Linked DNA regions of Homo sapiens. The protein of the gene in region 2 interacts with the protein of the main gene of each other region in a pairwise test. Each region holds a gene or a part of one and is shown on either strand. Other genes may lie near its edges.

Evidence for each region.
Region 1: the proteins of SETD9 (region 2) and PLCG2 interact in a two-hybrid assay, tested with the Homo sapiens proteins (one large-scale study listed by BioGRID and IntAct).

Annotation. Positions count from the first base shown.
Region 1 is NC_000016.10:81,781,981-81,785,790, reverse strand, and holds part of PLCG2 (1-phosphatidylinositol 4,5-bisphosphate phosphodiesterase gamma-2), read right to left. Parts: intron 1-3,810. UniProt on the Homo sapiens protein: The production of the second messenger molecules diacylglycerol (DAG) and inositol 1,4,5-trisphosphate (IP3) is mediated by activated phosphatidylinositol-specific phospholipase C enzymes. It is a crucial enzyme in transmembrane signaling.
Region 2 is NC_000005.10:56,908,103-56,912,474, reverse strand, and holds the start of SETD9 (SET domain-containing protein 9), read right to left. Parts: upstream 2,880-4,372; 5' UTR 2,830-2,879; coding exon 2,732-2,829; intron 2,419-2,731; exon of another isoform or gene 2,101-2,418; coding exon of another isoform or gene 2,081-2,100; intron 2,050-2,080; exon of another isoform or gene 1,555-2,049; coding exon of another isoform or gene 1,553-1,554; intron 1,307-1,552; coding exon 939-1,306; exon of another isoform or gene 251-938; coding exon of another isoform or gene 217-250; intron 1-216.

The DNA.
Region 1 (3,810 bases), on a different chromosome or scaffold from region 2:
GAGAGCTAAGGCAGGACACAAAGGTTTAAATGGAAACTGAAGTGTGAGAAGAGCCCCTGACCTCAAGGACCCAACCGTTACGTGGGCTTTGAATAACCAAATCACCCTGACCTGGCAGTGAGTCCCCTCTCTCCCCACCCACTCTTATCCTAAAGAATATTTGAATAGCCAAAGCAGCCCAGCCTGGCTCCCACCTCTCACCCCTAATCTCCAACATCCTTCTCTATCCTGTCTAGAGATTTCTAACCATCTCTTTATTCCTGAGCAAAATTAAGAACAAAAAAAAAAAAAAAATGAAATAAACGAAAAACAAACTAAACCTTCAGAATCATCCATGGAGACTTTGGCAAATGGTTCCTCTGCATAGAAATGAGGATGAAAGGCAGGAAATGTCAGGTCTTGGCAGCTTCACGTTCAAACCCTAGAGAAGGTTCCTGCTGACTGTGTAGCTCTGGGTAGACTGCTTGACCTCTCTGTGCCTCAGTTTTAGCCTTTTTAAAATGGGAGTGTTCAGAAATGCCCCAGCAAAGCACCTGGGGTGACGGCCAGCACCTAGGAGGTGTCCTTGATTGCTGTTTATGCTTGTGGGTGGTCAGTGTCAGAGAGGTGCTTGGGCCCAAAACCTTGGAGGAATCCTTGCGTGGACTCTCTCACGACCACTTCCAACGCATCTCACCCTTTCACCGGCTCCTCCTAGGATCTCATACTTGAACTATTCTAATCCTGCTCTCCCCACTTCTTCCCTGACCTGCTAGGGTCAATTCTCAGATGCAGAGCCAGAAGGATCCTTTTAGAACATGAATCAAATCATGTCACTCCTCTGCTCAAAATCCCTTAGTCCCTCCCTGAGCCCTCACTCTGTACCATTCCCTCATTCTGCCTCCCAAATCCCCAGAAACACATTGCCTGCCCCCAAAATAGGACTTAGAGTGAAGGCGCTCCCCAGGCCCTGGAGCTGAACCACCAGGGACCCCCTTGCCAGCTAGGCTGCAAGAAGTCACTTAGATCCTCTGGGCTCATTTCCAGTCCCATAAAAGAAGGTAACAGTATCCACCATCTAAATGTTTTTGTAAGGCTTAAACAAGATAATGTATCTCAGGCCCTTAAAACAATGATACAAAGTCAGCACTCCTTAGATTAAGCTATTGTTAAAATTACCATTATTTGTTCTGTTTCTTATCTCCTCCTTTCCCTCCAAGTCCCTGGAGGTGCCTGGAGTTGTTACTCTGTAGCTCTCAAGGTTACAGAGTAGCACTAGAGAGACCCTCCCAGGATCCAAAGAAGGAGGAGTGAGAGGCTGGTGTTCAGCCAGGGCTGTCTGTGCTTCCAGCCGGGCTCAGCCTTCTGCCAAGCTGCTCTAAATCTGTGGCTCGGTTCCCTCATCTGTAAAATGGAGGTTAAATGCCCACAAGGGGCAGCTGGGAAGACAAAAAGCTACAATGTATGCACAGCCTGCAGCATTTACCAGGGTCTCAGTTAGCATTAATCAGCCATTGGGGAAGGCATTAATCAAATGTCAACTCTATGCCAGGCACTGAGGTGGGGACTAGGATGCAAATGAGGGGAATGGGGAGGGGCCCAGGATTTGCCCTTTGCCCCCACCTCCCTCTACTGCACACCCATACCAAAGGGACCTCCTCGGTCAGCCATGCCAGCAGCAGGAGATAATTACACCTGCTCTCTGCCCATGGGGAAACAGACTAATCAACTGAGAATTCTAATGTAGTTACAAGTGCAGCAGCAGAAGCATGCACTGGGGGCACGGCGGGCAGAGAGCAGCAAGAAGGAATCCTAAATTTAATCTGGAGTGTGGCTAGGCACTTAAAGGGCTCAGAAAAAGCTTTCAGGGGAAAAAAGCAGGCATCTGAACTCAATCTTTCAAAAAAGATGAAGCAGGAGGAACTGGCTTTAAGTTTAAGCAAAGGCTAGGAGGCAGAACAGAGTATGCTAAAAAAAAACCCTGCTGAGAGTTAATGTGCATCTTACCTTATCAGGAGAAACCCAAAATGACCTCCTGATCATTAGCCAGGACAAAGGGATGAACAAGGTGCCCCCATGGTCCATTTCATCCTTGTTAAGCAGCCATTTATTGGGCCCTTCCCCAGGTGCCAAGCACCTGTTGTGTCTGGTTCGTCTCATTTATCTCAATGGGAAATACGGCAGCGGAAAACTGAAATCCCAAGAGGTCACATTACTTGATCAAAGTCATGTAGACCAGCAGCAGCACAAAGATCAAAACCCTCACCTGAGTCCCAAGCCCCTAGTCCAGAATCCTGTGGCAGCATCTGGCCAGATATTAACTGATTTGCCAGTACTTGCCACTCTCAAAAGAGGTTAAGGGACTTATCCGAGGTCACACAGATAGAAAGTAGCAAAACGAGTTAATGGGTGCAGCACACCAACATGGCACGTGTATATATATGTAACAAACCTGCACGTTGTGCACATGTACCCTAAAACTTAAAGCATAATAATAATATAATAATAAAATTTTAAAAAAGTAGCTGAAACTGGATTTGACCCAGCTGCCAACCACAGAGCTCTTCACTATGTTGACTGTTCCCAGCCATGCATCCTGGAGTTCCCCACTCCCAGGTCTCTAGGCCATAGTCCACTGGAACATAAGTAGGAAACACAAGCCCCATTATAACACCTTCAATTAGACAGAAACCAGGACAAGGGACCAGGCTCCTCAGTTCTTTCCAGCCCTCACTCTGGGAGGGCCTTGGACTTAACCTTCCCCAGGGTCCCAGTTACTTCCAGCTTCGAAGCCCAGTGGATCAACTCAGCCATAAACACCAGACTTCCATGCTGCGTCTCACCAATTGCTTTGTAATAGCTGCTCACAGGTTGCCCTAAAGGAGCAGGGGTGGAATTTACACTCTCACCTGCAGTGGCTGACACCGTTCCTTTGAAAACACTGTATCCCCTCTGATGCTGCAGGGTGGGTGTAAGGTGCAGCAGTAATGTCCATTCAACTGTTGGAGGGGCCCTTACCACTCAAGTATTTGCCTGTGCCCCATTTTAACAGAATCGTTTTGTGGGATTTTGGATGAAATCCTGTACTGGCTTAACATGCACAGAGCACTGAAGAGAAAAACTTCCTTGATTTCTGGTTTGGGGTTCTTGTATCTCACGAAATGCCCTTCTAAATAAGCTTGTGAGATACAAGAACATGAATGAGCTTATGAGATGCAATTGGAAACAGATCTTCACGGCCAAAAGATCCCTGGAGTCCACCATTCAAATCCTGCCAGCACCCAGCTCAGGTCTCCAGCGTTCCACGCTTTATCAACTATGGCAGGGAGGTCTCCAAGACCTTGAGCCCAGGAGAGAGCACCAGCCACCACAGCAACTTCCATTTTGCTTCTGCTTTTTTTGGTTTTTTCAAAAAAAGAAAAAAAAAAGCCTTGAAATCCCTTTTTTGTTCCTGTTTCCCATTCTTAATGGGTAATTCTATAAAATGACTTATTTTGTAAATACAAATATGGCTGAGTTTGAATAACTGATTTTTGCCATTTTTACATTTCATGTCCTTCTAAAGGTTTTTCTTGTATCTCATAAGCTCATTCATGTTCTTGTATCTCATAAGCTTATTTAGAAAGGCATAAAATGGGCCAGGCACGGTGGCTTATGACTGTAATTCCAGCACTTTGGGAGGCCGAGGTGGGCGGATCATGAGGTCAGGAGATCAAGACCATCCTGGCTAACACGATGAAACCCCGTCTCTACTAAAAAAAAATACAAAACAATTAGCCGGGTGTGGTGGCACATGCCTGTAATCCCAGCTACTCGTGAGGCTGAGGCAGG
Region 2 (4,372 bases):
AATTAGATTACTCGTACAGCAGGAAACTGAAACTCCCTTGTTTGGGGATGTAAAATTAGAAAACAGGAGAATGAATTTTTAAAAACCTGGGTCTATCTGACTCAAATATTCACACACACACTTTCCACTATACCAAATAATATAATGTTAGTTTAACACATAACGTAGTCTATTTAGCATTCTAGTTAATGATCTTGTGCCAAGAAATTGCCTTACTTTCCAAGTGTAGAAAGGGCAGGAAGGTCTTCATTCGGTGACTTATGGGTTTAAATGTTGTCTTTTATGTTTTGATCCGTACGCTTTTTTTTTTTCTTTTTTTTGAGATGGAGCCTAGCACTGTCACCCAGGCTGGAGCGCAATGGCACAATCTCGGCTCACTGCAACCTCCGCCTCCCGGGTTCACGCCATTCTCCTGCCTCAACCTCCTGAATAGCTGGGATTACAGGTGCACACCACCACACCTGGCTAATTTCTTGTATTTTCAGTAGAGACAGGGTTTCACTATGTTGGCCAGACTGGTCTCAAACCCCTCGCGATCTGCCCGCCTCGGCCTCCCAAAGTGCTGGGATTACCGGCGTGAGCCTATCCATACCATTTTTATCCTTAGCTATCAATTAAACCAAACTGACATGTTTCTCTAGTGCTTTTTAAGTAATTTGTCAAAGTGGGTCATACTATGTTCTAAATTTAAACGTTGACAGGAAAGCTTTCCTTGAAAGAAAAAGTGCATTTATCCCAACAAATACTCCAGGATACTTTCTAACACAAAACAATTTACAAACAGTTAATTTCCGAATTAGAATTGCAAAAATCTATGGAAACTCGAGTTTCCAATTTAATCCCTTACTCTAAGGATTGCAAGGCTGGGTATGTTACTGAACTTATGTTTATCAATACGTAAGAAGCTTGGCAAAGTATAATATTAATCGTGCTGTTACCAGGATACATAGATACGACTGCGCCTTTTGGTACCAATCCTTTAGTAACGAAGACACCTTTTCCAGCAGAAATCAATGAGCTAGTTGCTTGGGCAACACTGAAACCCAAAGTCTTGTAAAGAATTTCTTCTGGTTTAAAGGTACTTTGCTGTTGATGTCTGTTTTCAAGCAGTTTCACCCCTTGATGTTCAACTGCCAGTAGGTCTTGATATTTTGATTTAACAGATTCTGGAAGCATAGACAAGATTTCTGATTGTTTATTGAAATCATTTAAGAATAGAGCCTGGAAAACTTTCAGTAATGTTCCTAGGACATCTTCATCTGAGATAACTTTGTCTTTGGATTCCTCTGGAACATATCGGAGGGTCCTGAAAATGGGAAAAGTTTCTATTCACTACCCTTCAACTGATAAAAGCCAAACTTACCTGCATAACTTCTGGGTTCCTGGCCTTAAGGAACTATAAGCTTATTCTCATGTGTGTGGAGGGCTGGAAACTAAGTTCAGAAAAGAATTGTTTGAGGGAGTTCTAGTTAGCTAACTCCCAACACTTCCCACCCAAGTAGTCAGTACTTATGAAAGGCCCATTCTATACCACATGCTGTGGGGTCCTTACATTATTCCATTTTTGCAGACAAGGAAAGCAAAATTGTTAGGGAACTTGTTCAAGGTCCCAAAGCCAGTAAGTGGGAGAGCCAGAGGCAGAAACGAAGTTCAGCTCTTTCCCGTACTACACCCAACAGCCAAGCTGAATGTCATCACAATGAGAATGAATGACCTCACATTCAATGGCTTTTTAAAAATGGCCTTGTAGTTTCAAAGACAAATTCAACATCGTATACTTTGTGACACTCCCTCCAGGACGACTAACGTCTTCAATGACTGCACCTCTTATTTCCATAATCATTATCTTTTTGTACTAACTGCATTATTTTTACTTGAACAAAAAGGTTGTAATTCCCGCCTCACGGTTCCGAGTCATGATACAACTGATCTCCTGTTTCCCTAGCATGCAACCTTCCGGAAACCGCTTTGTTTCCCTATTTGTCGGACACTGACTTCAGGGAGGCCCGGTCGGCCTCTTTGGTGAGCACGGTGTTGAGCTGATCACTGGTGCGCCCTTAATAACGCCGGCGGGACTCACCCCAATCCGAAACCCACCATCCCGACGTGCTTTTGAGTGGCGTTCTGCCCGTTCTTAACGCGCGAGCTACTGCACGCTATTCTCACAGCCGGGATGGGCTTCTTTAACCACGTGAAGTACTTGTATGAACTATGAAAATAAACCCTGGCTTGGCTTTTCTGAGGAAGTTCAAGCACCTAATTAACCCCTGGTGGAGAAAAAGCCACGCACTCTCACGCGGTAAGGGCAGTCTTTTTAAAAAGTTTCCATTTTTGCCCAGATACAAGCTCCCCAGTCAGTGCCGAACGCAACAGGGAAGAACAGGCGACACATCCGGCTGGCGAGCTCGGCCTCGCGGGCCCGGCAGCGCAGCGGACACTGGGAAAGAGGCCATAGGCCCCGCCCACCTGAAGCCACCGCCCACTTCAGGCTTCCAGCGGGCCTCGGACTCCACCAACCTCGGCCCCGCCCGCCTCTGGCCCGCGTTCCTTAAACCCCTCCGAGGCCTCAGTCCCCGCCCACCCGGCCCGCCCACCTCAGTCCCTGCCCACCCGGGCCCGCCCATCTCAGGCCGGCAGTCAGCCTCAGGCTCTCCGCTTTGCGTCCCGCCGCCGTGGTGGCGTCTGGGAACCGAAGGCAGGTGCCCCTCGTTCTGCCGTCCCGCCCTCTCACCTCGGGTTGTGGCTTAGGTTCAGTGCGATCCAGGGAACGAAGCGGTACTTGTAACGGCGCCATCGCTGCCACAGGCCCCGCAGCAGACGGCCAGGCATGGCTGCCCCGCGGGGCCGTGACCAGGACGGCGCGGGGAAGGCGGATCGAGGCCTCGGGCCCGCCCCGGCCCGGGAGGAGAGGGGGCCGCGCTCGGCCGCCTTCCCCTGGCTCCGCTCTCAGTGTTCCTGGCACCGCCTGACTTCTGTTGCTCTGGGGCTTCGTCCTTCCCCTTTCCTGACCTCACCTCTCTGAATGAGAGGCGCGTAGAGCTGGAAGGAGGTCCCCTTGACCACTTTTTCTTTCTCCGGTCGCTCGGGTGCTTCCGTGGGCGCACACAAGCGCTAGCCCTGGTTGCGGGCGAAGGGTCACCGGGCCTCAGGGGCGAACCCGCCCCCGAGACCGCGTCCCAGGAGCGGACCGCCTAGTTTCTCTGTCACGGCTGTCTGGCCTGCCCCTTTGTCCCGGCCGCGCTCTGTGTTCCATCCTCCGTCCACTTGAGCTCTGCCTCTTCCTCGACGTTCTCTCCCCTTCTCTCCGTGGCCCCAGAGCAGCCCGACTTCGGGAACCCGAGTTTCAGTCCTCCCCAGACAGCAGCCCTTCTTCTGCGTGAACCCGTGTTCCCAAAGTTACCAGTTTGGGCGTTTTGCGAATATTTACACGTAAAAAAACAAAGTGTCATGATTCCCTGTTTTCACTCGTTTTTCTCTTCATTGACCCAACCATTCAAAGGCAAAACTACATGGACAAATGTTTCTGAAAAACAGCTTTGTTGAGGAATGGTTGGGATACAATAAACTGCACATATTTAAAGTGAACAATTTGATAGGTTTTCGACACCACAGCCAAGATAGTAATCCAGCCCCTCCCCCAGTCCCCAAGCAACCACTGAGGTGCTTTTGTCCTTTTAATATGGTCTTCGCTTCAATTTGGAAACGTTTTGTCTAGAAGTTCTGCATCTGTGTTCGTGAGAGATATTGTTTCGTAGTTTTCTTGTAGTGTCTTAATCTGGCTTTGGTATTTAGGCTAATGTTGACTTCATAGGATGAGGTGGGAAGTAGTCCCCCATAGGTGAAATTTAAAAGGAACTTTACGACCGCTCCTCCCCAACACCCAGATGCATGCACACGCACACACATATTTAGAACAGGTTTGGACAAAGTTCAGTTTTAAGGGGGGCAAACTACAGGAATCCCTTAACCATATTCAAATCACCAAGTGTTTATTGACAGATAAATACGTTGGTATCATTTCCTCTATTCTTTGCCTGAGAGTGAGGTTGGATCCTAAACTATTGAAATTGAACGGCTCAGATCTAATAAAAACTCAGCCAAGGCCGGGCGCAGTGGCTCACGCCTGTAATCCCAGCACTTTGGGAGGCCGAGGCGGGTGGATCCCCTGAGGTCAGGAGTTCGGGACCAATCTGGCCAACATGGCGAAACCCCGTCTTTACTAAAAAAGAACAAATACAAAAATTAGCCGAGCGTTGGTGGCACGTGCCTGTAGTCCCAGCTACTCAGGAGGCTGAGGCAGAAGAATCGCTTGAACCTGAGAGACGGAGGTTGCAGGGAGCCGAGATCCGCCACTGCACTCCAGCCTGGGTGA